Linked DNA regions of Homo sapiens. The protein of the gene in region 6 purifies or fractionates together with the protein of the main gene of each other region. This does not show direct contact. Each region holds a gene or a part of one and is shown on either strand. Other genes may lie near its edges.

The links.
Region 1: the proteins of SPARC (region 6) and TGFBI purify together in Homo sapiens (affinity purification with mass spectrometry, with the first as the bait; one study listed by BioGRID). This does not show direct contact.
Region 2: the proteins of SPARC (region 6) and VGF purify together in Homo sapiens (co-immunoprecipitation; one large-scale study listed by IntAct). This does not show direct contact.
Region 3: the proteins of SPARC (region 6) and NPEPPS fractionate together in Homo sapiens (co-fractionation; one large-scale study listed by BioGRID). This does not show direct contact.
Region 4: the proteins of SPARC (region 6) and EPHX2 fractionate together in Homo sapiens (co-fractionation; one large-scale study listed by BioGRID). This does not show direct contact.
Region 5: the proteins of SPARC (region 6) and ATF6 fractionate together in Homo sapiens (co-fractionation; one large-scale study listed by BioGRID). This does not show direct contact.
Region 7: the proteins of SPARC (region 6) and VPS13A purify together in Homo sapiens (co-immunoprecipitation; one large-scale study listed by IntAct). This does not show direct contact.

What each region holds. Positions count from the first base shown.
Region 1 is NC_000005.10:136,031,626-136,035,710, reverse strand, and holds part of TGFBI (transforming growth factor-beta-induced protein ig-h3 precursor), read right to left. Parts: intron 1,949-4,085; coding exon 1,850-1,948; intron 1-1,849.
Region 2 is NC_000007.14:101,162,589-101,167,102, forward strand, and holds the start of VGF (neurosecretory protein VGF precursor), read right to left. Parts: upstream 2,982-4,514; 5' UTR 2,786-2,981; exon of another isoform or gene 2,398-2,785; intron 2,276-2,397; 5' UTR 2,256-2,275; coding exon 408-2,255; 3' UTR 1-407.
Region 3 is NC_000017.11:47,586,023-47,590,107, forward strand, and holds part of NPEPPS (puromycin-sensitive aminopeptidase), read left to right. Parts: intron 1-125; coding exon 126-222; intron 223-342; coding exon 343-376; intron 377-1,207; coding exon 1,208-1,322; intron 1,323-4,085. UniProt on the Homo sapiens protein: Aminopeptidase with broad substrate specificity for several peptides. Involved in proteolytic events essential for cell growth and viability. May act as regulator of neuropeptide activity.
Region 4 is NC_000008.11:27,539,281-27,543,365, reverse strand, and holds part of EPHX2 (bifunctional epoxide hydrolase 2), read right to left. Parts: intron 2,813-4,085; coding exon 2,710-2,812; intron 1,894-2,709; coding exon 1,824-1,893; intron 1-1,823. UniProt on the Homo sapiens protein: Bifunctional enzyme. The C-terminal domain has epoxide hydrolase activity and acts on epoxides (alkene oxides, oxiranes) and arene oxides. Plays a role in xenobiotic metabolism by degrading potentially toxic epoxides.
Region 5 is NC_000001.11:161,768,979-161,773,063, reverse strand, and holds part of ATF6 (cyclic AMP-dependent transcription factor ATF-6 alpha), read right to left. Parts: intron 4,037-4,085; exon of another isoform or gene 449-4,036; intron 1-448.
Region 6 is NC_000005.10:151,673,416-151,677,500, forward strand, and holds part of SPARC (SPARC isoform 1 precursor), read right to left. Parts: intron 3,633-4,085; exon of another isoform or gene 3,530-3,632; intron 2,787-3,529; 5' UTR 2,774-2,786; coding exon 2,717-2,773; intron 1,260-2,716; coding exon 1,197-1,259; intron 1-1,196.
Region 7 is NC_000009.12:77,183,926-77,188,010, reverse strand, and holds part of VPS13A (intermembrane lipid transfer protein VPS13A), read right to left. Parts: intron 1-4,085. UniProt on the Homo sapiens protein: Mediates the transfer of lipids between membranes at organelle contact sites. Binds phospholipids. Required for the formation or stabilization of ER-mitochondria contact sites which enable transfer of lipids between the ER and mitochondria.

The DNA.
Region 1 (4,085 bases), about 16 Mb from region 6:
TTGTTAATTTGAGTAGATAATATACACACATGGGAAAAAATCAATCAGTACTAAAGGTTTTCTTTTCTTTTTTTTTTTTTTTTTTTGAGACGGTGTCTCACTCTGTCACCCAGGCTGGACTGCAGTGGCACGATCTTGGCTCACTGCAAGCTCCGCCTCCCAGGTTCACGCCATTCTCCTGCCTCAGCCTCCCGAGTAGCTGGGACTACAGGTGCCCGCCACCACGCCCGCTAATATTTTTGTATTTTTTTAGTAGAGACGGGGTTTCACCATGTTAGCCAGGATGGTCTCTGTCTCCTGACCTTGTGATCCGCCCACCTCGGCCTCCCAAAGTGTTGGGATTACAGGCGTGAGCCACTGTGCCCGGCCCATCTTTTTTCTTATTTTTTAAGTCAGGCATCCTGGAAGAATGGGTGGTGTATAATTTGCATAGTCTCCTTTTGTTCATAGCAGCAAGAATATCGCTGGGTGTCTGTTAGCTGAATCTTGGCAGTGTGTCCTCCTAGCTCACTCAACTTTTAGCTTGCAGGCTGGGCTGTCAATCAGGCATGGAGCAAGCTGCCATGGACCTGCCCTGGACAGGCTCCCAGGGACTGCTGGTATCTCCCCAGCTGTGCCATGAATCCCAACTTCCCTCAATTCATATTAGGATTGCTAATTGCCTAACATAATCAGGGTCACACATTGGAATATTTATTTCCACATACAGTTTAAGGAAAGAGCATTTTCTCTTCTTTCAGTTGGCTATTAAATTGGAGGAGATGTCTGCTCAAAAGCAATGTCACAACAATAAACTTAAAAATCCCTAACATTGAAAAGTGCTTAAGAGAGTGGCTTAGAGTTTCTTAATCATCCCATTATGTATGGAGACAGGAGGAAGGTCAGGCCTTCACAAGTGGCTCAGGAGATTTGTCATACACATCTTCCTAGCTATAGGAGACAGCCAGCTTTGAGATCTGTTGACAGTGCCAAAACAGATTAGGTTTCCCCAGAATTGTTAGAACATGCACCTGATTCCACCAGGGAGCTGGGCAGTGGGGTAAAAGCTGCCTCCCTCCTTGCTGAAACAGACATCAACAAGCCCTATTGTAACCACACTGGTCCACACCCCGTTGGCACTCTTACTTCTGCTTGTGTGGTCTAGATTTGCAAATCTAGGGTGATAATAATAATAGTAGCTAGCATTTATTGAGCACTGATATATGCTGGGCACCATATTCAGTCTCTTATGTACATTATTTCATTCAATCCTTGTAACAACCCCATAAGGTGGGTCCTTTTGTTATACGAACTTTTCAGGTAAAGCAATGGAGGGTTCTAAAGATGAATCGACTGGCCCAGGTAGAGCTAGGGTTTGAATGAGGAAGTCTGTGCAAATATTATATGCTATGCTGTCTCATAATCTGCATATGTTTAGTGCTCTAAGTCTTTTTGGGGTGTTTACCTTAGGACTGTAAGATAGGGATGGCATTCTTTAGTACAGATTCACCAATGGGCTTTCTTTTCCAGAGTCACATGCTGGTGGCTTCTCCACTGCATATCTGTATTATTTTATGAGGATTGAGAAACACACACACACACACACACACGCAGTGTTTCATGTTTCTTGCAAACCCAAACCAGCCCTGAAAAATGTCTCCAAGTCTTGTCAGCAGCCTTAAAAATGCAAAACAAAATTGGCCAGCTTCCTAAAAATGCCACTCCCTAGCACGCAGGTCCCAGACATGTTCGCACATGCATCTTCATGGCTTTTTAGGCAACCTGACCTTCTAGAAGGCTGGCCCAGGCCCTGGGGAACTGCAGCCAGCGTGCATACAGCTTGGTCTCCTGGCTGGTTACAGATACTCACGTTGATTTGCCACAGATTTTCCTTTGGTACCACTGCTTGCAGTTGGTGAAGTACTTCCTATTAGTGCCAATAACCTTCTGCACAGCACACACGTTGGGGCTGAAAACAAAAGCAGCAGAATTAGGAAGATGATCAGCACGTCCACCCCACTTTAATGACTCCCATCGTGTTTGCCTCCTTGGGTCACTGGAACTTTCTAGAGATAGAGGAGAGAGTCATTTCAGTCTTGGTACTGGGGATATCTTGGGTTTAGACTTTGGTTCTGTTTACCTAGATTCCCATCAGCCCCCATGAAAGCTTCCCCTGCAAAAATTGTTAAAATCTCTCTTACATACTGATGTAACTTCATGTACATATCCTTCTTTGACATGGGCAATTGATAAGTGTAAACAAAAGCATCTCTCAGGCAGCTCTCCATACAGACATGCTCTGCATGCCTGGACCAGCTGCTTGGCTCCCAAAGACAAGCCATTGTTACTGTCTATCCTATAAACCCGAGGCTTTATAGCTGGTTTAAACCATGGCTGGTTGCTCTCAGGACCCTGATAGGGGATGCTCTCCCATTTAACTCTCAGTTGTTCATTACTTAGATCACAGCTCAAGTCCCACTTCCCCCAGGAGCCTTTCTCCAATGTCCCAGATGACATGCTGCTTCCCATCCTCTGACAGTGGATACGGTCCTTATTTGATGTTGGGTTCCAAACAGAATTCCTGTAAGTGATGCGGGGAGGTGGGGGGTGTCTCTTCTCTGCATCTAACACTCAACAGAACCTTGAGGACAAGTGTTCTGCCTTGTTCTGTTGTTCACATTCTAGATGGGGCCTAGCATCCAGGCAGGGTGTAGAAGGAGCACGAAATGAACTTGTTGAAAATACTGCTCCCCAAACTACCCAGATCCAAAGAATCCTCAGGGACCCTGTGAAAAAGCAGAGTGTAAATGTCTGGGGGTTCTGCTAAGAAGCCTTTTCCAGAACCACAGGATTTTGGTTTTGCATGTTTTTTTCAAGTATACCAAGTCCTGACCCAAACTGTGCTCAGGCCAGGTGATTGTGAAAGCTTCATTAGGAGCCCCTAGGGAAAGGAAGCTGCTGTGCTACGTGGTCAGTCAGGAGAGGCGTGGTCAGTCAGGAGAGGGTTGATCTTCCTGAGCCAGAGGCAGGCATGCATCTGACTGAATCACAAGTCAGAGGAAAGCAAATAAAACAAACAATACTGAGGGCTTTCACAAGACCTCCAAGCTCAGAGAACTTCAGGTATCACCCAAAGGATGAAGTATTTCTTTAACATCAATTTCCCTGTTACTTTAAGAATGCCATCCACAGACATCACTTGATGTGCAGCGTATTTGTTAAGAAGACACCAATATTGCAGTAAAAACTACACCTACTGTCCCCATCATGATTCCTCTGCAGGAACTTGAACAATTCTCAAATATTCAGAGTCAGGCTTTTGGGTGGGAGTCCATTCTGCCCCTTCATTTCTCTGCCCTGTCTCTTCTGCGGTGATATGACTGTCACCTCTTGGCCAGTTTTTTGTTCAACAGGTGAAAGTGAGTGGGCCCAGGAGGGACAATGAGCATTAATGAATCCATGTAAGGATCTAGGGACAAGAGAAGTGAAGGCTGGAGAAGGGACCACAGCCAGCAGAGGCCCATGCCTCCCTAGTCCTAGCTGGGCCTGACCAAATCCTCCAGATTTCTGAATACCTGGTTTCTGTTTGCTGCCTAGGATTCACAGGTTAGACAGTCCCTGAATAACCCCTGAAGAGTCCTTGCTGGCCATACTCCAGCCCCCGGTCCTATTTATTGTTACAGAATCCCAGAAGCTCTTCAATCTGATCAAGCAGGAAACAATTACTGTCAATGAATTCCCTGCCACTTTCCGTAGGCGTTTGGCGAATCTTCAGTGAGTCTCTTGTGGATGTGGCTCCAACATTCCTTTGCTGAATGTTTCCACTGCTGCTGTCCTTGTGGCAGCAGCAGAGGCTGGGGGCGGCTGTGACCCTCTCCTTCTCACATCGGGGAGTGTGGGTGGGCTGTGTACATAGGAAGTTCATGCTGAAGCTTAATTGAAATGAGCAAGTTGCTTCTGGGCCTCAAGAATAACAGCATTGATGTTCAGCTTAGATTTGAAAACCAAGTGCTTCAGGAAATTCAGTTCAGTTTTTGGTGGTTGATGTTTGGAAGTGTGATTGTATTTTTACTTCTCTTTCAGTATTATTTTTCCCCTTCCCTATA
Region 2 (4,514 bases), on a different chromosome or scaffold from region 6:
GGGGTCAATTCACAGCGACTTGGAGAGGCTGGAGGGGCTCGTGGGAGGCCCGAAGGGCTGGAGACAGACACACTTCACACAATTAACTGGAACTGCTTTTTCCGGTTTCCGACGGGGACGTCCCCAGAGGGACTTGATGGGGCCGGGGCCCCGCGTGGCAAGGGAACTCGCACAAACCACCCGCCCTCCTGGGCTGGCCCCCGGTCACCCGCGGGTGAGCTCTGGGAGTTCGGGCTCAGGACCCGGGAGGGGGGTCTGGCAGGTCCCGACGCAGCCCGGGGACAGGGGCAGGGCCAAGGGGCAGGGCCGGGGCGCATGCAAACACCGAGGGGGAGCGGGCAACACGGAGGGGGGCGCCGGCGCGCGCGCGCGGCGGGGGCGCGCGGGGGCGGGACCGGGAAGGGCAGTCACGGGCGCCGGAGCAGCACGTGCTCGATGTAATTCTCCAGCTCCTCCTGCTCCTGCAGCCGGCGCTCCTCCGCCTCCGCCTCCTCCTGCGCGCGCCGCGCCTGGGCCTCCCGGCCGGGATAGTGGCGCGAAGGCGGCAAGGCGTGGTGGTAGTGGCGGCGGCGCAAGGCCGAGGGCGGCTGCAGTGTCCGCGGCCGGATGTAGTTGGGGAAAGGGTGGTACGGCCCTGGCGGGTACACCTCGTCCTCCTCCCGATCCCAGGGCGGGAGCACCTCGTTCCAGTCCGGCAGCTCGTCTCGTGCGGGAGCGGGGGCGGGGGGCGGGGGCTGCGGGGAGCGGACGTGGGTGGGGGCGGGGGCGGCACGGGGGGGCGGCACGGGCTCGGGAGGGGCGTTCTTCTTCCGCTTCCGCTTCTCCTCCACCTCCTCGATGATGCTGACCACGTCGTCCGCTGGCAGGTGGAGTTTGGTGGACAGCTCAATGAGGCTGTCGATCGTCTGCGGATCCATCTCCTCGTCGTCCTCCTCCTCCCCGCCCTCCTCTGTCCCCTCGGCCTCCTTCCGCCGGTGGCCCGGCGTCTCCTCCTGGGAGCGCTTGTCCTCGGCGCCGGCTTCCCCGTCCTCCTCCTCCGCGAACAGGAGCGCGTTCTGCCGCGCCCTCTCCGCCTCCTCCGCCTCTGCCTCCGCCTCGGCCGCCTCCTCATCCTCTTCCCCCACCCTCTCCTCCCCGCCGCGTCTCTCCTGCTCCGCCTCCTCCTCCTCCCTTGCACTCTCTCGCTCCTCCGCCGCCTCCTGCAGCCCCCGACCCCCGAGGCCGCGCTGCCGGGCCCCGCCCTGCAGCAAATACTGGAGCAGCAGGTCCGAGGCGAGGTCGGCCAGCCGCTCTTCCTGCGCCGCGGCCTGCCGCGTGGCCTCCGCCTGCCGCCGCCCGGCCTCCACCTGCGCCAGCCCTTGCTGGAGAAGGCGCTCGCCCGCCTCGGAGCCGCCCAGGAGTGCGCTCTCCGGCCGGCGCGCCTTGGGGAACGGGGCGGCCACGCCTTGGTACGCCTTGGACAGGGGTGCCAATGCCTCGCCTAGGTGTGTTTTGGGGGAGGACACTCCTTCCCCGAACTTGTGGGTTTCGGGAAGGGGCCCGCTGTCGGGCATACGCGCCTGGAATTGAGAGGGGGCCGGGGGCGGCAGGGGCGCGCGCTCCGGGACACGCGCCTGGAACTCTCCCCAGGAAGCGCGCCATACGCGCTCTGGCCCCGGGCTCTCCAGATTCACTCGGGTCAGCGTGTGCGTGCGGGTTTCCGTCTCTGCTGCCGCCGTCTCCTGCTGGCGCTTGGCGCTACTTGGACTGAAATCTCGCAGTTCCTGGAGCAGGGACGCTAGCGCCTCGAGCTCCTCGGAGGGATCGCTCGCCTCGGGCCCATTCTCCGGAGTCTGAGGGCGAGGCGGAGCCGCGGGCTCCGGGCTCTCCGGCGCCGGGAGGCTGTGGGTCTGGCTGCGCACGGTCTCGGTCAGCAGAGCTTCAGCTGCTTCTTCCTCCGGCCCCTGCTGGGAGCCGCTTGGTGCCGGGGGTGAGGCGGGACGGTCGAGTGCCTGCAGCAGCACCGCGGCCAGCGCCCGGGGATCCACGCCCTGGAAAAGCTCTCCCTCGTCCTGCGGCTCGGAATTCCGAGCGCCTCGGACCTCTGGGGCGCTGCCATCCTTTGGCCCGGGCACTGCGTCCCCGGCTACCGGCTCTTTATGCTCAGAGCTGAGAGGAGGAGGCTGCGCCTCAGGGCGACCAGGGGGTGCTGCCCCTAACCCGTTGATCAGCAGAAGGCAGAAGAGGGCGGAAGCCGACAATCTGAGGGCTTTCATGACCAAGAGGCTGCCGGAGACTGAAAAATAGAAGGGACCAAAAAAAGAGGATTTCTGTAAGAATTCCCCTCTCTAGGTCTACGTTCCCTTCCCCCACCTTTCAGCAGGAAACCCGGGGCTTCCCTGATCCCCCAAACCTTACCCAGAAGAGGAACGTTTAGGAGCAAAGGAGGAAGATGTTGTGCCGATCTCTGGAGCCGTGTAAATGGGAAAATAACCCCCGAAGCCCTCGCTTACCCAGGGCCTCCTCGGCCCCTTCCCTGAGCCATCTCACTGCCATCGCCCACGTACTAAGCAGCAGCAATATGGGGGAAAAAAAAATCTCTGCTCCCTCCCCGTAGGACTCCCCGGATGGTGCGTGGGCGACTTCAGCAGCAAGAGAAAAAGCTGCGACTCCCCCGTTTACCGGGGACCCTTACCAGGGGGCTCCCCGCTGTGTTTGCAACACCCCCATCGAGAGGAGAGAGAACCCTCCCTCACGCCCACGGCTGGCTGCCGAGGGTTTGAGGGACGAACAGCGGAGTATTTACCAGCTGGTGTCACGACGCGAGAGGTGGAGAGGAGGGTCGGGGCAGGGTGGGGACAGGGGAAGATCGGGACGCGTCCGCCTCGGCTCCGAGCGGTGGCCGGGGTAGGAGCGACGGTCGAGGTCTGGCGTCCCGTGGGCTGGGCTCAGCTGGGTCGGCGCGGCTCCGGGCGGCTAGCTCGCTCCGGCTTCAGCACGCTGGACAGCGCCCGCGCCTCCACCGCCTTATAAAGGGGAGCGCGCGGGGTCACGTGGGCGCGCCCCGCCCCATTGACGTCAATGTTCATTCATGGGGAAGCGGGCGGCCGCCCGGAGGAGGAAGGACGCCCGACGATTGGAGGGTGCCTGCCTCTCCCGGCCTGCGCCTGCGCGCTGGGGCCTTCGGCTGAAGGGGTGTGCGCTAGCGGAGCTCCGGGAAATGAATGAATGAATGAATGAATGAAATGCTGAAGCGGGCAGGGCGGGGGGCTATGAATGAATGAAGGAGGGACGAGGAGAAAAGGATGAATGAATGAATGGGAGAATGAATGGAAGGGTGGATGCAGAGGCGCTGGAAGGCGGGAGGGTGGGTTGCAGAGCAACTTGGAGCTGCTGGATGGAGCCCGCGTTGCTGAGTGGAATAGAAAAAGGGTAGTCCCAGCGTCTGACTGGGCACCAGTGGGAGCTCAATACTGGGGAGGGGAAGGATAAAGATTCAAGAGCCGACCAGGGGGCCGGGTTCCCCACCCCGAGACCACGCGCCCAAGGACGGCGTGAACCTGAGTGCAGAGGGACAGATCTGCACGCCTGCGGGCGCTGTCCGCGAATCGGCAGTGCGGGTGGCAGCCCCCTGACAGGGGCAGATGGGTGGATCTTGCGGTTTTGGTAATCCCATCGGGAAGGGTCCGAGTCGGAAGAGAAAAGGGAAAGAATGAGGATGTGTGTGCCTCTGGGTCGTGTCTGTTTCACGATCCGTGCTGTGTCTGGAGAAAAAGGTGTGTCTGTCCTTCTGTCCCCTGACTGCCGCTTGTGTCAAGGCCCCCCGCTGTGCCCCCTTCGGCCCATCTCTTCCCACACTCCCCCAGTCGCTTTCCCTCCTGCCGCTCCCCTCCCCCAAGGACGTTTGGAGGGCGAGACCAGAGCAGGTGGGGAGGGGGTTGCGCAGGTGGGGGGGGGGTGACTCAACTCCAGCTCTCTCCACCGCTTAAAGGGAAGGTTTGAACGCGATGGGAGGGGGACCTGCAACGTCAGAGATAGCCCCTCTCTGCCACCAGCCCCTTCGACCGTATCTCCTGCCAGAGAGGTTGGGGCTGGGGGCTTGGACAGCTAGAGGTTCCGGGGGTGGGGGGCGATGACGCACAGATTTGCGCAAAGAGAATCCATCAGAGAGCTGGGTCCGGTGAAGGGAGACCAGCCGTGGGCGGGGGTGGGGGGGAGGACGGAAATGGGGAGGGGGCAGGGGAGAGGAGAGGGTGGCAAGGGGGGCAGCCACTGCAGGAATGAAGGGGAGGGAGGGAGGAAGCCTGGAGGGGGCTGCGGTGCTGGCAGAGAGCGGTGCGGGGGCGTGGGCAGGGAAGGGGGGAATGACAATGACACACGCCAGACACACACGAACTGCGGACATAGGGGTGCTCGTGGGCACACGCAGGGCACCCGCACCCTGAGACTCTGGAAACCAAGGTCAGGGCTGTCTGTCAGGGTCTTAGAGACTCTTTCAGAAACGGTCCTCGCCCCCCTCCTCACCTCTTCCTGGC
Region 3 (4,085 bases), on a different chromosome or scaffold from region 6:
GGCTCCTCGGGATTCATTTCTAGTAATTTAAGATACATTGGCTTGCAACAGGATTCCTTTGTGGGTTTCAATATGAATTATAATAACATATTTATTAGATGGTTATTTTGTTTATACTTTTATAGGTTGCTGCTAAAACCTTGCCTTTTTATAAGGACTACTTCAATGTTCCTTATCCTCTACCTAAAATTGATCTCATTGCTATTGCAGACTTTGCAGCTGGTAAAGTAAATTTCATTTTATTGCTGAATTGTAATAACTTTTTAAAATTTTGTGACTTTTGATGCAAGAGTATATATATATATATATATATCAATAAATGTTTATATTTATTTTGTGAAGGTGCCATGGAGAACTGGGGCCTTGTTACTTATAGGTATGTTAATGATGTGTTACCCTGCCTTATCTTTTCAAATCACTGATTTCAAAAGGGCTTCCCTCCTAATCACAGTTGAGTAGCTTCTGCTTTACGATATGGTGTAAATTTTTCTACCTTCCCCCACTTCCGTGCACATTTCAAGAATGCAGATGGACACCCCTCCCTTTGGTGCTACTGTCTGAGGGTGTAAGATTTTAAAGTGAGCATCTGGCGGTAGTAGCATTTTTAGATATATTCTTGGCTAAGTTTCTCATTGCAGTAGTTTCATAGCTATTTATCCAGCTTGGAGAACCTTCCCTAATTTCATATCTTCTAGCCAAGTTTTTACATGTCTGTCACCACAACATAAACATGTGAGTTGAATAACTTTTAAAAGCAGAGTCTGTCTGTAAACAAGTTTTTGCCTTCTACTTTCAATTGCCTTTTTAGATGAGCTAAGTGTTGGACAGCCGGCTCAGTGCTGTTTTTGGGACTATGGAATGCATCTTCCTCCACCACTCCCCTCATTTAATGGAAGGACTTTCTTCTCTCTCCATCTAGCACAGTAATCGCTAATCCCTTAGACAATGTTTTCCCAAAATTTCAGGCAGCTATTCTATCAACAAACTGATAATTAAACTTGTGTCACATCTTTGATATTCTGTTGTATTAATTCTGTTGGGGTAGTCTTTAATCTTCGTGAAACTTTTTCTTTCCATATTAGGAAATATTTTCCTAATATCTCTAAAGCCTAACTTGTCCATCTGACTTACTGTCTGAATCTTCCCAACTTATGCATGCCCACTTTTATTGTTTAAATTTGTTTCTTTTTTTTTTTTTTAAACACAGGGAGACTGCATTGCTTATTGATCCAAAAAATTCCTGTTCTTCATCCCGCCAGTGGGTTGCTCTGGTTGTGGGACATGAACTCGCCCATCAATGGTTTGGAAATCTTGTTACTATGGTATTTAATATTTTTAAGTGCTCAAATATATTTATCTTCATCCTACTCCACATTATTTTGGCTACATAGTATTTCAAGTTTGGCTGCAACACTGTGCCAAAAAATAATTGAGTGATAGAAAAGTATTATTTTAAAAGGTCCACTTTGAAAAGGCTTATCAGAATCTCTGCATTGAACAAGGGCATATGGACAGTCTTTATTCAACAGACACTTCCTAAACTGTTCTAAAATTTGTCTGCAAGTGGGAAAAGTCAAGATACTAATTTGGGTGAGAGAAAAACATTCCTCTTAGGTGTAGATGAATGAATCATGCAGTGAGATTCCAGGCTAACTGTAGTTTCTTGAATCTTATTTGTTAATCTGATTCACAGCTGAAAAGTAACCTGATGAATAACAAACTGATCTTTAATTAGAGAGAAATGTTTTTAGGAGTCAGTTTTTTCATTGCCTAAAATGTTAAGTTGAAATTTAATGAAATAAAAGTAAACAAACTGCAGAGTGACTGCAGAATAAAGCTGTATTAAAATTCCAGCTGTTCTGTTGAAATCCTTATAATGTTTGCAGTAATGATCTCTGTCCTTCAGTCCTGATTTTTCACTCTTACTCTAAGTAAATACTATTTATGAATGCCAACTGTGTTAGAGCTTGGGAGCACAGGATTTAATAAGTGAACTAGATGTACCTCTGCAATTAAATAACTGGATATTCTGGAGCCAGCTAGATTCCCTGACATTTTAGGCTGCCAAAGAGCAGAACCTGATTTGAATGTAGATTGAGTCCATACGTCATATAAATAAGAATGTAAGACATTTATCAACTATTACGTGTCTCAGAGAGTTTCTACAGAAAGTCAACCCTTGAAAATAAATCTTTTCCTTTTATTTTGGATGTTTAAAATTTTACAGGTGAAAAAAATTCTTTGAAATATAATTTCAGGCCGGGCACGGTGGCTCACGCCGGTAATCCCAGCACTTTGGGAGGCTGAGGCAGGTGGATCACTTGAGGTCACGTGTTTGAGACCACCCTGACCAATGTTGCGAAACCCCATCTCCACTAAAAAAAATAGAAAATTAGCTGGGCGTGGTGGTGTGCGCCTGTAATCCTAGCTACTCTGGAGGTTGAGGCAGAAGAATCACTTGAACCTGGGAGGCAGAGGTTGCAGTGAGCCGAGATCACGCCACTGCACTCCAGCCTGGGCAACAAGAGCGAAACTCCATCTCAAAAAAAAAAAAAGAAATATAATTTCATGTGGAATTATGTGTTGGTGCCTGTATTCAAATATGTGAAGAAATGGCCTTTTCTTCTAATGCAGCAAGTTTGCTACTTTGTACCAAATAATTTTTTTGCTTGGTTTTGAGATAACTTTATGATTTTATTTTGAAACAAGCAATAAATTTTAGTAGGGGAAATGTGTACATTCTTATTAAACAACTTTTTACTGGTTTTATGTAACTATTCTAGTTATTAGAACTGAAATTCCAAGGGCTTAGGGATAGGTTGGAAAATAAGTTTCATTTTATGCTAGTTTATTTTAGGAAGCTACTAGGCAAATAGCCACTTATCACTTAATATCAAAATAATTTTTTTTTTAAGACAGAGTCTCACTCTGTCACTTAAACTGGAGTGCAATGGCACAATCATGGTTCATTACAGTCTTTACCTCTGGGCTCAAGCAATCCTCCTGTCTCTGCCTCCTGAGTAGCTGCAATTACAGGTGTGTGGCACCATGCCCAGCTAATTTTTGCACTTTTTGTAGAGACAAGGTTTCACTGTATTGCCTTTTGTAGAGACAGGGTTTCACTTTGTTGCCTAAACTGGTCTCAAACTCCTGGGCTCAAGCAATCCTCCCACCTCAGCCTCCCAAAGTGCTGGGATTACAGGCATGAGCTACCACACCTGGCCTTTTCTGGGGGGACTGGTTGGGGATGGAGAATGGGATCTCACTTTGTCACCCAAGCCGGAGTGCAGTGGCACAATCATGGGTCAGTGCAGCTTCATCTTCCTGGGCTTATGTAATCCTCTTGCCTCAGCCTCCCAAGTAGCTGGGACCACAGGTGTGTGTCACCATGACCAGCTAATTTTTTTTTACTTTTTAATTTTTTTAGAGATGGAGTCTCACTATGTTGCCCAGGCTTATCTCAAACTCCTGGGCTCAAGTGATCTTCCTGCCTTGACCTCCCAGAGTATTGGCATTACAGGAGCAAGCCATTGTGCCTGGCCTGCTTTCTTTTACTAATAGGCTTAATCAACTTTAATAAAATTTAGATTAAGATCTTTCAAATTTTTTTAAAATTGATTTTATCTGTCACTCATATTCTTTGTCCATTCCATTTACTATGCATTCTTATTTAACAGGTGATAATTTTATATTCCATAAGTGCTTAAACACCATTCATTACTGAACTGCATTTTTGTTTAATTTCACATAATTTTTATATAAGCAGTACTCTTTCTCAGTTTCTCTTGAACATTCAACTCATTAGTGAGTGGTTTTCCCCTGTCATTTCCATTTTTCTTTATTTGGCTCTGATAGTTTTCTGTTTTTGTTTTTCAGAGATAATCCTTTACTATACTAAATTCTACATGATTATATTTTCCACCTCTATTTGCCTATATTTATCTGTTGTCTTTTCCTTTTCCATATATGGGCTTTTTTTTTCCCTCTTCTTCCTTTTCTACCTTTGGTATTTAAAAAGTTACTTAGGACTGAATGCACTGGCTTACGCGTGTAATCCCAGCACTTTGGCAGGCTGAGGCGGGAGG
Region 4 (4,085 bases), on a different chromosome or scaffold from region 6:
ATCAATGTGACATGAATGGCAGCAAAGTAACTTCCAATTGCTGGCAAATGAGTTGAACACAGGGAGGCATGCACAGGAAGGCCAGGAAAGCCTCTGTGTTTTTTCCTTTGTTCTCGCTCCACCATTACCCTAATTTCCAAGCAGCTTTGACCCATCCCTGGTTGAGGAACGTGCACTATTTTCATTTACACCCAGAGTGATGGGCATCTCTCCACACCCCTCCCTCCTCCCACAACCAGGAGCCAGGAGAAGGTCAAAAATGATTTTGTGGCTAAAACGAATCCTGAGGCTTCTATGAGGTTTGTAAACTCTAGAAAGTTCCAAGCTAAAATGTGAACTGGGCGGGGGGCGGGGGGGGGAGAGGATGGGATGGGAGGAGGTGGGGGAGGAGAGAGGAAGATCCAGCTGGAAACTGCAGAAGAGAGGCTGGGTGCAGTGGCTCACGCCTGTCATCCCAGCACTTTGGGAGGCCGAGGTGGGTGGATCGCCTGAGCTCAGGAGTTTGAGACCACCCTGCGCAACATGGTGAAGCCCCATCTCTACTAAAACACAAAAAATTCGCTGGGTGTGGTGGCGCACTCCTGTAATTCCAGCTGCTTGGGAGGCTGAGGCAGGAGAATTGCTTGAACCCAGGGGGCAGAGGTTGCAGTGAACCGAGATCGTGCCATTGCATTCTAGCCTGGGCAACTGAGCAAGACTGTCTCAAAAAATAAACTGCAGAAGAGGAGGGTTTCTGACCTTAGCACCATTGGGATTCACCTTCCCAGCGCCTTTGTCAATATTTTCCTCCACGCTTTGAGAGATTTTGTCTGTCCAACTGCAGTTTGGTCATTTTCATCGGTCATATGATGATAATGACAAGGAACACTAATGGAGCTAATAGGTTCCCAGTACTGCTTGTAACAGGTCACATGCCTTCAACCATTTCATCCTTACACAGCTCTGTGAGGGAGGCACTGTTCTTGCCACTTGCATATTGCAGAAGAAGCCACAGTGGATCAGAGGGGTTAAGTACCTTTCCCAGGGTCACACAGGGATTAGACTCAGCCCATGTGCTTCCTAGCCTGCTCTTAACCACGATGTTATATACTCTAGTGCCTCAAGACTTAATTTTGGGAGGTCAAGACCTGGTCTGTTTACACACCATGGTATCCCAGGGTCTGGCAGGAAGTCTGGCATGTAGCAGTGTGTTCACTTACAGAGTGAACCAACAAGGTAACCATGGCTACTGAGTGAGCTGATGAAGGCCTAGCTACCTGTGCAGTCACACTGGGGAACAGATTTCCCTTAGATTTTTAAACATTTTGAATGTAAACTGGGAACCTCCATTACTCCTTCTGCAGACCCAGAGATTGGAAACTCATCTTCTGCTTGACAAATGAGGAAACTGAGACTCAGAGATTGACTTGTGCAAGGTGACACAACCGAAGGCTAAAGTCACATCTCTGAGAGCACCTAACGCTCCTCTGGGCTGGGGGCTCCAGTATCCATGTCACTTCTGGGAGGTGCCCCAGGCCATCTGCAGCCCTGCCTTGGGGTACCACCAGGGGACCTGGGGATTCCGGATGGATGCTGCAGTTCCCTGGACACACCCCAGCTCCATCCCCAAGGTCACCCTCTACCATCCCAAGAGAAGCACCAGCAAGAAAGATCCTAGGGAAACCCCTGAAGGGAGTCACTTCCCAAACCCCAAAGGGAAAGGAGGTGGCCAGCAGATCTGTCCACAACCAGCTCTGGCCCAGGTCATATCAGCTCAGGCCAATGGGAAGCCCCGCGGGCGGGTCCTGGGGTGTGGATGAGACTACACTGAACCTGGCACTCACCTTCCGTCCCAAGCTTTTGCAAGCCCACTTCCAGTTCCTTTCCATGTTTCGGTACCAGTTTAGAGGACCTCTGGGGAGAGATCAGAAAGTAAAAAGAGGGAGGCAGTAAGTAGACGGCTCTGCTACAGACACCAGCAGAAACCTGCTCTGCACAGCCAGTCGTCCTGGGAAGAGCAAAGCCTCCTGCAGGGGCAAGAGAATAGAGCCCAGGACCCACGCCTTGCTGTCGGGCGCAGTTGCCAAGCTCTAGCAGCAAGGCCTTGTGCAAGGACACAGGACTCCACTGAGTGAACTGGCAGCCTCTAGGTTGGCTTTTGGGACACAAAGAAGCCGGCCCTACAGGACCCTCCAGGGAATGTCATCGTGTCACCTTGGAGGCTGGGGAGGTTGCTGATGGTGGGGAACTTGGTTTAGCAGCCTCACCATCCAGAGGCCACTCGCCTGCCCCAGGGAGCCCACTTGAGAGGGACATTGGGAGGTGGAGCAAAGATGCCCCCTCCTAATATGACATCAGGAAGTAGGGCAAATGCACCAAAATGTATGCACTTTTTGAGTTTATGTGGATTTTTATGTTTTTCTGAAGAAAGAGCCCAGAGTTGCCATCTGATTCTCTGAGGAGCCATGACTAAAAAGTAGTGAAAACCCTCTGCCCTATGGGGGCCCCATAAGCATAAGGAAGAACAAGCTGAGCTATCCCAAACTAGAGCAGGCTGAGCACCATAAAGTAGTGAGCCTCCCGACACTGGAGGCATTGAAGCAGAGGCTGGCCTGGCACTAACGAGGGCTGTGGTGGAGGAGAACTGGGCCTCACCCTCCACCCTGAGGGCTGAAGATCCCTATCTGTCGATCATCTCTCATCTGTGTCTGGGCCCTGTGCTCTCTTTACCTGAAACCAGACTTCTTGAACTGCTGCACATAGAACTGGATTTCCTCCTCAGTGACCATCCTGCTGAGGCTGGGCTCTTCTGGGCTATTTACAAAAAGTCCTCCTGCAAAAAAAGCCACTTGTTGACTTTCCCATCCCCGGGCCAGGTGTCTGCATTTTAAGGTGGGGACCTCATTGCCTCTCGCAGACCATCTGAACTTGCGCAAGGCCTTATGAGTGCCTCCATCTTTTGTTCCCTTATCCTTTGCCAGAGTGATCCCATCTCCTCGAAAGCTCAAAGCTGTGATCTCACGGTCACACTGGAGCCTGATGTTCCCTCCCACCTAGCCACGACTTCACGGGCTATTATCACAGCTCCTGGACCAACCACAGTTGCCGGCTTTTTCAGGCACACAGCAGCTATATCCCAGACCCTGCCAGCCCCCAGCTCCTGCTCTCCCCTCGTCTAAACCTTTCCCAGCCAGCTTAACTGTGGCCCTTTGGAGATATCGCCAGAGATTCTTGGAATTTTCATAAGGATTTGCTCCGTTTTTCCTCTAAGGCAGGAAGAGAACCCAGGCCAGGTGGCTGCATCCTGTCACCTCCCACGTGCCGCACAGACCCTCTGTGGTATCCCACTGTGGACCCCTCTCTTGTCTTCAGGGTGCTGCACAGTCCCTCCAGAGGATGGCCTGTGATGACCCCTGGCAGCCCAGGGACCACTGCAATTTCACAGGGCACAGCCTCAATGCTGGTGCCTGAACAGGGCCCGTCGGCATTTTCAGATTCACGAAGACCCGGAGGCACAGGAACTGGTCATTCCAGGCTTTTGTGAGACACATCAAAGGGGTATGTGATGAGGATGTCACCCTGTGATGAAGCCACCCTGAGCCTCCCCACCAGGCGGGTGCTCCAGACTCACTGTACCTCAGGGCCCCTCTGCGAGCATCCCAGCTGCTCTGCCTCCCGTGAGACTGTGGGCTCACTGAGGGTGGCCACCCTGCTTCGTGTGTCTGGGTAGCTGAGCATGCAGCCCCAGCTTCATACCCAGCCTGTGCTCACAGCATTTGAGGAATGAATGAATGGGTGAATGAATGAGTGACAGACGGTGTGAAGGAATAAGGGAATGTGGGTGTGGGGGAGGGAAGGAAGATGTTCTTTGAGCAGTGACAAGAGCATGGCCTGCAGGGTCAGAGGAGTTTAACCCCAGCTCAGCCACTTCGGACAAGTTACTTAACCCTCTGAGACCTGTTTTCCTCTTTGGAAATTAAAAATAGTAGCATTTTTCAGAATGCTTCGAGGATCACAAATATTTTATCTAAAGGGGGTTAGTCCAGAGTTTTATACAGATGGTCAGCACGTGCCCAAACAAGTGACAGTGGTCATCATTATTCATA
Region 5 (4,085 bases), on a different chromosome or scaffold from region 6:
TCCAGGAGGTGGAGGTTACAGTGAGCCAAGATCGTGCCATTGCACTCTAGCCTGGGCAACAGAGCAAGACTCTGTCTCAAAAAAAAAAAAAAAAAAAAAACAGGAGTTTCAGTGGAGTGGTGGCACCTGACTGGACTGGGTTCAAGAGACAAGGAGAAATAAAAAACTAGAGTCAGTGAACGTGGACATTTTTTAAAAGGAATTCTGCTGTAACATACAGTAGAGAAATGCAGTAACAGCAAGAGGTGAAGTAACATCTGAAGAGAGTTTTGAGTTTGTTGGTTTTGTTTTTTTTTTTTTTAACTCTAGCTAGAGTACTATCTAGATATAGAAACAGTACTTCTAGGAGAAACAACAACATGTTCATTTACTGACAGAGATGATCTAGTAGAGAGGGGAAATGCTGATGCAGGAAACAGGAGGAAGAATAGCTTGAGCAATATTCTTGAACAAAACAGGAAGAATCTAAAGCACATATGGAAGGACTGGCTCTAGCTAGGAGCAAGAAGCCACTCATTCTCACCAACAAAAGAGAAAGCAAACATGTTGATAGGTGGGTAAATGAGGTAGTGGGAGACTGTAGAAGTTCTCTTCTGATTCAAAGGATGGGAGAGATGTTGGAGGTTTGAAGATAGAAGAAACTTTATAAAGCAATCATCAGAATGGGACAGTGAGAGGACCAGGGAAATATGATTGGTCTGGCAACACTTAAATTGAGACCAGTCAGGACAGTTGAAGTGTTTTCTTCAGCTGATTCAGCTATACTAGGACAGGCATGAAGTGGGCAAAACTGAATTTAACTAATAGGTTTATCCAAGAGAAACCTACCAGAAAAGAGACAGACATGAATATGAAAGGTGAAAGGAAGGAAATAGTGACAATGACTGTCCATGGTATTTAAACTGGGTAAGAGGGACGTGATGAACTGAAGAGAATGAGAGACACTGGAAACATGGCAAAATCTCAGAAGGACTGAACAACTATTGAAACTGGAATACTAAAGGAAGTAAGCTGGTAAAACAGGCGAAGGCAGTCAGAGCAGGATGTTTGAAAGTGAGATGTTATTGGTAGTGACAAGACTTAGGCTTATGATCAGGAAAGCAAATGGCTGAGACTGGGTAAAAGGTAAGATCAGTGATAAAGAGGAGGTCCAGAAAATGACAGGTCAGTGTATCTGAAGGATCTTCTCTAAGGATACTGAAATCATCCAAGAATCATGATGGAAGTAATGGTGAAGAAAGTAACAGTAAGCTAGTGGCAAAATGTTTTCAAAAAGCCAAAAAGAAGCCAGGCATGGTGGCATGTGTCTGTAGTCCCAGCTACTCGGGAGGCTGAGGCAGGAGGATCCTTTGACCCCAGGGGTCTGAAGATGCAGTGAGCTGTGATTGCTCCACCGCATACTCCAGCTCCAACCTGGGCAAGAGAACAAGACCCCATCTCTAAAAGAAAAAAAGAAAAGTGAAAGAGAGTGATCCAGGAATCAGGAGAGGTAGAGGATGGGATATTGTGACAAAATGAGATTTCAACTTAGATATTTTTAGGGAGGAGGAAAGGAGAATAGCAGTGAAGGACAATGGAGACACCTATCCCACCAACAGAGGCCCTATGGTGAAAAGGTTTTGAGAATAAAATTAGCAACCGTTCACCGGGGCATTACGGGAAGTTGTGTCATCCAGGAGCACCAGATTTTGATTTAGTGCTAGAAAGCCAAGAGAACCTTCACAGAAGAGACTGAAGACATAAACGAAACCACAGTGGCAGACGAAAGCTTCTGATCTTGATACACATATCTTAAGTACAGCTGACAGAAGAATAAAGAGAAGGAAAAAGGAGAAAGGAGAAAGGAGGAGGAGGAGGGAAGAAAGAAGAAAGCAGAATAAAGCAGCTTTTGCACAAATTCAAGCAAGAGTAAAAGAGAAGAGAGAAGGAGAGAGGAGGGTAAAACATACAGACGGCAAATAAGCATATGAAAAGATGCTCAACATCATATGTCATCAGGAAACTGCAAATTAAAACATACCACTACACACCTATTAGAATGACTAAAATCCAAAGTACTGGCAACACCAAATGTTAGCAAGGATGTGGAGCATCAAAAATGCTCATTCATTGCTAGCGGGAATGCAAAATGGTATAGCCACTTTGGAAGACAGTTTGGCAATTTCTTACAAAACAAACAAAAAACATGTTCTTACCACACAATCCAGCAATTGTGCTCCTTGATATTTACCCAAACAATTGGAAAATGCATGTCCACACAAAAACCTGCACACAAATGTTTTCAGCAGTTTTATATATAATTGCCAAAAGTTGGAAGCAACCAAGATGTGCTTCAATAGGTAAGTGGATAAGCAAACTGTGAATTTATGGCCTAAACTGTGTCCTCCAAAATTCGTATGTTGAAGCCCTAACCCCAAATATTACTATATCGAGAGATACAGTCTTTAGGAGGTAATTAAAGTTAAATGAGGTCATTAAAGTGGGGCACTAATCTGATAGGACTGTGGCCTTATAAGAAGAAGAAGATTCTCTCTCTCAGTGCCATGTGAGGACACAAGAAGAAGGCAGCCATGTGCATGCAAGCCAGGAAGAGAGCCCTAACCAGAACCTGAAGGTGCGGCCATCTTGATCTTGAACTCTAACCTCCAGAACTGGGAGAAAATAAATTTCCATTGTTTAAACCACGCAGTCTGTGGTGTTGTCTTATGGCAGCCTAGGCAGACTAATAGGCTATAGAACATACATACTATTTTTTGTAACACTGTAAATAGTATTTTTGTAATACTATTTAGTGCTAAGAAGAAATGAGCTATCAAGCCATGAAAAGACATGGAGGGACCTTAAGTGCATATTGCTAAGTGAAAGAAGCCAATTCAAAAATGCTACATACTGTATGATTCCAACTATATGACATTCTGCAAAAGGCAAAACCATGGAGACAGTGAAAAGATCAGTGGTTACCTGACCAGAGGTAGGGAAGAGGAAGGAGGAAAAAATAGGTAGAGCATAGGGCTTTTTTAGGGCAGTGAAACTATTCTATATAATACTGTAATTATGGATACATGTCATTATACCTTTGTCAAAACCCATAGAACAGTGGTTCCCAACCCTGTTGGGAACCAGGCCACACAGCAGGAGGTGAGCAGCAGGTGGGTGAGTGAGCGAAGCTTCATCTGTATTTACAGCCACTCCCCATCACTTGCATTACCGCCTGAGCTCCACGACCTGTCAGATCAGCAGCAGCATTAGATTCTCATAGGAGTGTGAACCCTACTGTGAACTGCACATGTGAGGGATCTAGAGTGCACGCTCCTTATGAGAATCTAACGCCTGATGATCTAATCACTGTCTCCCATCACCCCCAGATGAGACCATCTAGTTGCAGGAAAACAAGCTCAGGGCTCCCACTAATTCTGTATTATGTTGAGTTATATAATTATTTCATTATATATTACAGTGTAATAACAATACAAATAAAGTGCACAATAAATGTAATGCACTTGAATCATCCTGAAAACATTTCCTGTGCCTCCCTGTCCCCACCTCCTGTGGAAAAATTGTCTTTCATGAAACCAGTCCCTGGTGCCAAAAGGCTGGGGATCCCTGCCATAGAATGTACAACAGAGTGAACTTTAAATGATGGGCTTAGTTAATAATAATGTATCAATACTGGCTCATCAATTGTAACCAATGTACCACACTAATGCAAGATGTTACCAATAGGAGAAGCTGGGGATGAAGGGGAAGTATGTGGACTCTTTGTACTATCTGCTCAATTATTGTGTAAATCTATAATTATACTAAAAAAGTAGGCTTATTATTTAAAATAATTATGTGAAATTCAAATTTCAGTGTCTATAAAGCTTTATAGAAACACAGCCATGCTCACTTGTTTATGCTGTCTCTGGCTGCTCCTGCACTATCACAGCAGACTTGAGTAGTTGCAACAGTGACCATGTAATCACAAAGCCTAAAATATTTACTATCTGAACCTTTACAGAAAATGTTTGAAGACTCTTGCTCTAAATTTCATTACCTAAGTTAAAAAGAAAAAGGAAAGCACATCCCTCACAGGCTGTTCTGAG
Region 6 (4,085 bases):
AGAGTGTGAAAGGAAAATATACCTTGGACCCCAAAATCACTAAGCTAAGGGGAAAAGTCAAGCTGAGAACTGCATAGGACAAACCTGCCTCCTATTCTATGCAGTCATCCCTCTGAGGCTCACCTGAGACAAACGCTTATCTGATTGCTTCCTCTCCCCTATTGTTTATGTAAAAATGCAGATTCACTGAGCCAGATTAAATTGTGTATTCAGGGGAAGGCTGATCAAGGACTCAAAGGAATGCAACCATTTGTCTCTTATCTACTTCTAACCTGGAAGCCCTCACTTCTCAAGTTGTCTTGCCTTAGCGAACTCAACCAATGCACAATTTAGACATGTTGATTGAAGTCTCGTGTCTCCCTAAAATGTATGAAAGCAAACTGTACTCCCGACCACCTTGGACACATGTCTCAGAACTTCCTGAGGCTGTGTCACAGGCACATTCTTAACCTTGGCAAAGTAAACTTTCTAAATTGACTGAGATCTATGTTCACAAGAGGGTGTCAAGCCTCCACCCCTGCCAGCCACACCCAAGCATCTCCCCTTTCCTCTGTGTGTGTGTGTGTGTGTGTGTGTGTGTGTGTGTGTGTGTGCTTGTTTGTTTGTTTGTTTTTGAGATGGAGTCTCATGCTGTCGCCCAGGGTAGAGTACAGTGGCGAGATCTTGGCTAACTGCAACCTCCACCTCCCGGGTTCAAGCGATTCTCCTACCTCAGCCTCCCGAGTAGCTGGGATTACAGGCACCCGCCACCACGCCCAGCTAATTTTTTGTATTTTTAGTAGAGACAGGGTTTCACCATGTTGGCCACACTGGTCTTGAACTCCTGACCTCGTGAATTGCCTGCCTCGGCCTCCCAAAGGATTACAGGGATTACAGGCATGAGCCACCGCACCCGGCCTCCTCTGTTTTACGTTTGCAAAAACTGTGGGTAATCATGGAAGAACAACTGTTGCATAGCTTAAAAAACAAAAATTTTAAGGTCCTGGTCCCCAAACGTAGGGTTCCGTTGAAGGTTTGGGAAGCATTCAGGAGTGTGTCAGGATGTGGGATATACTCAGGGTTTGCATCTATGCTATGTGTGTACAGGGAGACGAATGCCCCACTCTAGCATTGAGACCCACAGCATCCGCCCTAATTTCTCAGGGCACAGATACAGGTAGAGAGGGGCTAAGGGGCTGCGGTCACTGCCCACATACCTCAGTCACCTCTGCCACAGTTTCTTCCACCACCTCTGTCTCATCAGGCAGGGCTTCTTGCTGCTGTTGGAAAGAGAAAGTAGCGTTCAGAGGGGTCAGGAATAAGGCCAGCTTCACCTCCAAAGTGCCTGTGGCCTCGGATACAGGCTAGGGGAGCTTGGAGAGCAGCTTACTGGAGATCCCCAAAGTTGTGCCTCATGGACTGCCATGGTGAGGGACAGAACAAAGAAGAAGCCAGTCATGTGAGCACCGTGGAACACTCAAGCAGCTCCCATTTTATATATTTTATATCCTAGGTGTCTACCTAAGATTTAGCTTGGAAAAGTATTTCTGCTGCTTTGAATTCTTATAAAGTCTGAAAATCACTGATCCAGACCAATTCTTTCACTTTACAGATAGGAAAATTGACATCCAGAGGGGATGACACTGTGAATTTTAACAGATGTCATCATCTTCCTCACAGTGTGATATTATTAGTAGTATTATTAGGCAATTTTTCTTGCCATTTCAACTTGGAGTAGGAGGAAGCAAGAAAACACACAACTTTGAGGCCCTTAGCTGGCTGGAGCTGCTTCAAAACTTAATGCCAACTTTGAGAAACTTTTGCCTCCATCTACCAGCCTGATCAAGATTGCCAGGGTCTGCCATCACTCCCACTTCTTAGTAAACAGAGGATGAGGGGATCACAGGTTGAAAGAAATTGCACTTTTTGCCTGCCCTGTTTCTTCCTCCTCTCCTTGTGAAGGCTTCCAGATGAGCTGTGGATAACTACTCCTGTCCCTGCATGCAATGCTTCGAGGAACTGTCTGTCAATCAAGGGGCCCCACTCTCACCTGGCCAAGAAGCTGGCTCAGGACCCAAGCTCAGCCAGATTGGCTCTCATTTTTTGAATTTATAAAAACCTTCTTGGCACATTCTCTCAAGATGTGAAAATTGCTGGAGTTGATTCATTCAGACAGCAATATCTCAGAGACTGTCCATTAGTTCTTAACTCCCAAAGCCTAGAGCTGCCCTTTTCCAGTCCTCCCCAAGGCCTTTAATATTATAATCTACCTCTGTATCTTCCCCTCCTTCCCCAATTTAGTCAGATTGAACTGTTGCTTACAACCAAACAACCCTCACTGTTTCAGAAGCCAACACATTCCTCTCTCTATAGCTTGAATCTCTTCTAATACCACCCCTACCAGAAATCCCCCACATCCTGTCTCCTGCCTGCTTGAATTCCTCATATGACAAAGAGGTCATTTCCTTCTAAAGCAATCCTAGTTCATTGCTGGGAGGCTCTGACTACTAAGAAGTTTATCTAACATTACATGGAACTCTCTCTTCTCTGATACCTCCACCCAATGGTCCTCATCCCAGTTTTTATCCCGAGCTTCCTAACTTAAGAAAAAAAAAAGACCACTAACTTGAAATGGGGAAGTCCCTGTTCCCTTTCAGCATCCAGGGCTGGCAGGCTCAGAACCCCTGGTGCTAGCGGTAGGAATGAAAACAAGAAGACATGATATTTAGGTACTTACAGGGGCTGCCAAGGCCCTCCCGGCCAGGCAAAGGAGAAAGAAGATCCAGGCCCTCATGGTGCTGGGAACCCTATGGGGAGGAGAGATTGAGAGTTCAGTGAGGGTGAGACTTCCTTATGGAGATTTCCTTCTGAATTCCTGATATGTGCAAGATAATGTTAGATGGTACAAGTTAAATGATAGTGAAAAACATGAGGAGGTTGGTTCCATTTAATATTCTTTCAATTCTGCTTATATGAGAAGAAAGTCTCAGTTTGGTGCCAAGATGTCTTAAACACCTCCTTTATACTCATCTATCTCCTTTTTTAACAAAAAGAGAATAAGCCTCCAGCTCAGAGCTTCCACAGGAAGTTATATCCAGCTGGAACTGAATCAAGTTGTTTTGTTTTTTTTATGTGTTTGTTTTTACAGTTTCCTTCTATTTATGACAAAGGTACACAGAGTTTTTTCCATTTATGGTAGTGATATAAAATCTGCTTTTGTAATACATTTATTAAAGTTTTTGCAAAGTGATTCAACTAAGGTGATGGGCTAACTAGTTAAGTTTGGGCAATGCCAAACCAGATCATCTTCAAGGTCCCTTCAATCCCTGATATTCTAAAATTATTTTTTTCCCTAAACCCAATCTCTCCTCTTCCTCCTCTGTCGCCTCCTCCCCCTCCTTCCTACTCCCTCTGCAATGGGAGAAGTTAATAGGCAGGAACTTCTTGCCAGTTTGGGACAATGAGATCCACATTCTAAAACAAAGAACAATAGTCTTGGAATGTAACCCATGGAAACTTGAGGGTGGCCACATTTTTCTCCATTCTACCCAGAAGAGACAGCACTTCTTTAGGTCCTGTACGGAAACCATCCAGATGCTTCCATGTGTTGCAGAGGGGATGTTAGCTGAGATCTAGAAAATACCTCTGTTCTGGTAACTGTTAAGGCCTCATTCTCTAAATGCCAAGCTCTAGACTCTAATACTCTCATGACTATAAGGGATTTTGGAGCAGTATCTCCTCTGAGGATTCAAAACTAAAATGCTATTCCTAACAGAGGCTCTGTGGTGGAGACATTTCATTTCTTGCACTAACTAAATGGCTTTTCATTCTCAAGTGACTTTAGAAAGTTCTTTCTTTTACTGATCTAAATGTGCCTCCCTCAAACTTTCTGATCTGTCTACCCCATCTCCCCTGCAGCCACAAAGAACAAACCTGCTCTCTCTACCCACAAATAACCTTCCATCAGGAGCAACAGTGGCCATGTCTTCCCTCTTTCTTCTCCCAAAACCTCCCTGTCAGGCTCATCATCCCTTATTTCTTCCAAGACTTCTCAACTGACCAAATGGTGGTGGGAGGTAACCCGGCATCATGGAGAAAAATACTCA
Region 7 (4,085 bases), on a different chromosome or scaffold from region 6:
CTGCCTCCCACCAGTCCCCACCTCCAACAATGGGGATTACAATTAAATATGAGACTTGGTGGGGACATGTATTCAAACTCTATCCAGTACACATGGACACAAAGAAGGAAACAACAAACACCAAGGCCTACTTGAGGGTGGAGGGTGTGGGGAGGGTGAGGATCAAAAAACTATCTATCGGGTACTATGCTCTCTACCTGGGTGACAAAATAATTTATACATCAAACCCCAGTGACACACAATTAACCCACACAACAAACCCACACATGTACCCCATGAACCTAAAATAAAAGTTAGCAGGGAAAAAAAGGAAGAAAAGGTAACACACAAAATGGGAAATATTTGCAAATCATATATCTGATAAGCAGCTAACATTGTGTGTGTGTGTGTGTGTGTGTGTGTATGTTTGTATGTAAACTCTTACAACTCAAAAAACAAACAACCTGATTAAAAGATGGACAAAGGACTTAAATAGATGTTTCTCCAATTAAGATATACAAATGGTCAATAAGCCCATGAAAAGATGTTCAACATTACTAATTAGAGAAATGTAAATGAAAACTACAAGATACCACCTCATATCCATTAGGATAACTACTATCAAAAAAAGAGAAAATAAATGTTGGTGAGGATGTGGAGAAATGGTGACCTTTGTACACTGTTGGTAGGAATGTAAAATGGTGCAGTCACTATAGAAAGTAGTATGATAATTCCTCAAAAAAATTGATAATGGAATTACTATATGATCCAGTAATTCTGCTTCTGGGTATGTAACCCAAAAATCTGACAGCACAGACTGAACTTCAAAGAAAAATATCCACATTCATAACACCATTATTCACAACAGCCAAAAGGTGGAAGCTGCCCAACTATTCATCAACAGATGAATGGAGAAACAAAATGCAGTATATACATACAATGGGATACTATTTAGCTTGAAAAATTATTGAAATGCTGACATTTCCTACAACACGGATGCACCTTGAGGACATTATGCCAAGTAAAAGAAACCAATAACAAATGGCAAATACTGTATAATTCCACTTATACTTCAAGTATTCGAATTTACAGACATCAAAAGTAGAATAACGGTTACTGGGGTCTGGGAAGACGGTGGAATGGGTAGTCATTGCTTAACGGGTAAGTGGTTCAGTTTTGCAAGATGAAGAATTCAGGAGATGAATAATGGTGAAGTCAGGAGATGAATGGTGGTGATGGTTGCACAATGTAAGTGTACTTAATGACATGAAGTGTACACTTAAAATGGTTAAGATAGGCCGGGTGTGGTGGGTCACACCTGTAATCCCAGCACTTTGGGAGGCCGAGGCGGGCAGATTACTAGGTCAAGAGATCAAGACCATTCTGGTCAACATAGTGAAACCCCATTTCTACTAAAAATACAAAAATTAGCTGGGCATGGTGGCATGCATCTGTAGTCCCAGCTACTTAGGAGGCTGAGGCAGGAGAATCGCTTGAACCCAGGAGGCAGAGGTTGCAGTAAGCAGAGACTGCGCCACTGCACTCCAGGCTGGGCAACACAGCAGGACTCCATCTCAAAAATTAAAAAAAACAAATAAATAAAGGAGTTCTTCAGAAAGAAGGAAAATGATTTAAACCAAAAACTCAGATTCACAGGAGCATTAGAGAATTAAGAGATGAAGGTAAATTAAGTCTTTTCTTCCTTATTCTTAAATTAATAGAAAAATGTCTAAAATACTAATAGCAGCAATGCATTGGATTATTACAGCTTATAGGTAAGTGAAATTAATGACAACAATGTTACAATGGGCAGAAGGGAGGAATCTGTATACTGTATTGTAAGATAGAGTATTACATATACTACCTCCATTTTCCATGAAGTAGTATAGTGGGATTTTTGTTTTTGTGTTTTTTGAGACAGAGTTTCGCACTGTCGCCCAGGCTAGAGTGAAGTGGCACAATCTCGGCTCACTGCCTCCCAGTTCAAGAGATTCTCATACCTCAGCCTCCTGAGTAGCTGAGACTACAGGCGCACATTACCATGCTCAGCAAATTTTTTGTATTTCTAGTAGAGATGGGGTTTCACCATGTTGACCAGGCAGGTCTCGTACTCTTAACCTTAAATGATCCGCCAGCCTCAGTCCCCCAAAATGCTGGAATTACAGGCGTGAGCCACTATACCTGACCTATAATGTTATTTGGACGTGGACTTGGACTAGTTTTAAGTGAACAGCACAAACTGTAATACAACCACTTAAATAAATTGTTTAAGAAGCATAATTGGTATGCTAAGACAGGAGAAAAAAATTAAATCATATCACATGATCAATTAAAACCAGAGAGGGCAAAAGAGGAGGGGAAGACTGTTTAAAAAGGAAACAAGTATAACAAAACAGAAAACAGCTATAAATATGATAAGACACTGTCAAAGGAAAATAAAGGTTTTTCTCTCTACTCTCATATTCGACACAGAACCCTTAGATAACCAGATATGTGAAGTTTTTCCCCCAATCCCTAAACAATTCTCCAACAGACACTAACTATAATTCAATTAAATAATGACACTATCTACCTAGAAAGGGTGTCATATCGAGCCGGGCGCAGTAGCTCACGCCTGTAATCCCAGCACTTTGGGAGGCCAAGGCAGGTGGATCACAAGGTCAAGAGATCAAGACCATCCTGGTCAACATGGTGAAACTCCGTCTCTACTAAAAATACAAAAAGTAGCCTGGTGTGGTGACAGGCGCCTGTAGTCCCAGCTACTCGGGAGGCTGAGGCAGGAGAATCACTTGAACCCGGGAGGCGGAGGTTGCAGTGAGCCAAAATTGCGCCACCGCACTCCAGCCTGGCGACAGAGCGAGACTCTGTCTCAAAAAAAAAAAAAGAGATAATGTCATATCCCACATGGTAAGGGCTCAGTTCCATAAGACTGCCCCTCACTTCAGATGTCAGTCACAAGTCGCAGGCTGTGATCTGTGCTTCTGATTGACCAGCTATAAATCAGGGTTCGCACCTGATTTTATTTGGTTTGATAATTTGCTGGGATAACTCACAAAACTCAGGGAAATACTTATATTTAACAGTTTATCATAAAGGATATTACAAAGGATACAGATAAAGAGATGGACAGAGCAAAGTAAGGTGGTGGGGAGCTTCCATGCCCTCCCTGTTGTGGACTTTGGTATCTGCACAGGTCTTGGAACTAAACCCCTGGAGATACTGAGTGCTAAACATACACGTCATGACCAAATGGGATTTATTCTAGGTATGCAAGGCTAGTTCAACATTCAAAGATCAATTAATGTAATGTATCACACCAACAGATTAAAAAAGAAAAAAATCCTGTGATAATAGTAATAGATGCAGAAAAAAACATTTGACAAAATCCAGCATTCTTTTGTTTTTGTTTTTTTGAGACGGAGTCTTGCTCTGTCACCTAGGCTGGAGTGCAGTAGCACGATCTCGGCTCACTGCAACCTCCGCCTCCCATGTTCAAGCGATTCTCGTGTCTCAGCCTCCCAAGTAGCTGGGACTACAGGTGCCCGCCACCACACCCAGCTAATTTTTGTATTTTTAGTAGAGACAGGGTCTCACCATGTTGGCCAGGCTGGGCTCGAACTCCTGGCCTCAACTGATCTGGCCACCTCAGCTTCCCAAAGTGCTAAAATTACAGGCATGAGCCATCATGCCTGGCTCCAACATTCTTGAAGGAAAAGAAAACACTCTCAGCAAAGCAGAATAGATGTGTATGTATGACAGAAAGAAAAAAATTAGAGTATTTGTTGCCTCTGAAGATGAGGGTAGGAATAAATTAGGAAAGGTCAGGAAAAAGACTTTCTGGGGTGATGGTCATGTTCTATATCTTGACTGGGTTTGAGTTACATGTGTGTATGTATTTGTCAAAACTCAGTCAATGTACACTTAAGATTTGTATATTTTCTTCTACATAAATTTTACCTCAAAAGGAAAAAAACTAAGCAAATATTGCACTCTAATGATACACATGCTGAAGTATTTAGGAGGAAATGAGCTCATCTCTACAACTTATTCTGAAATACATTTAATAATATGAATTGCTGCATGGATAGAGAGATGGACAGATGGAC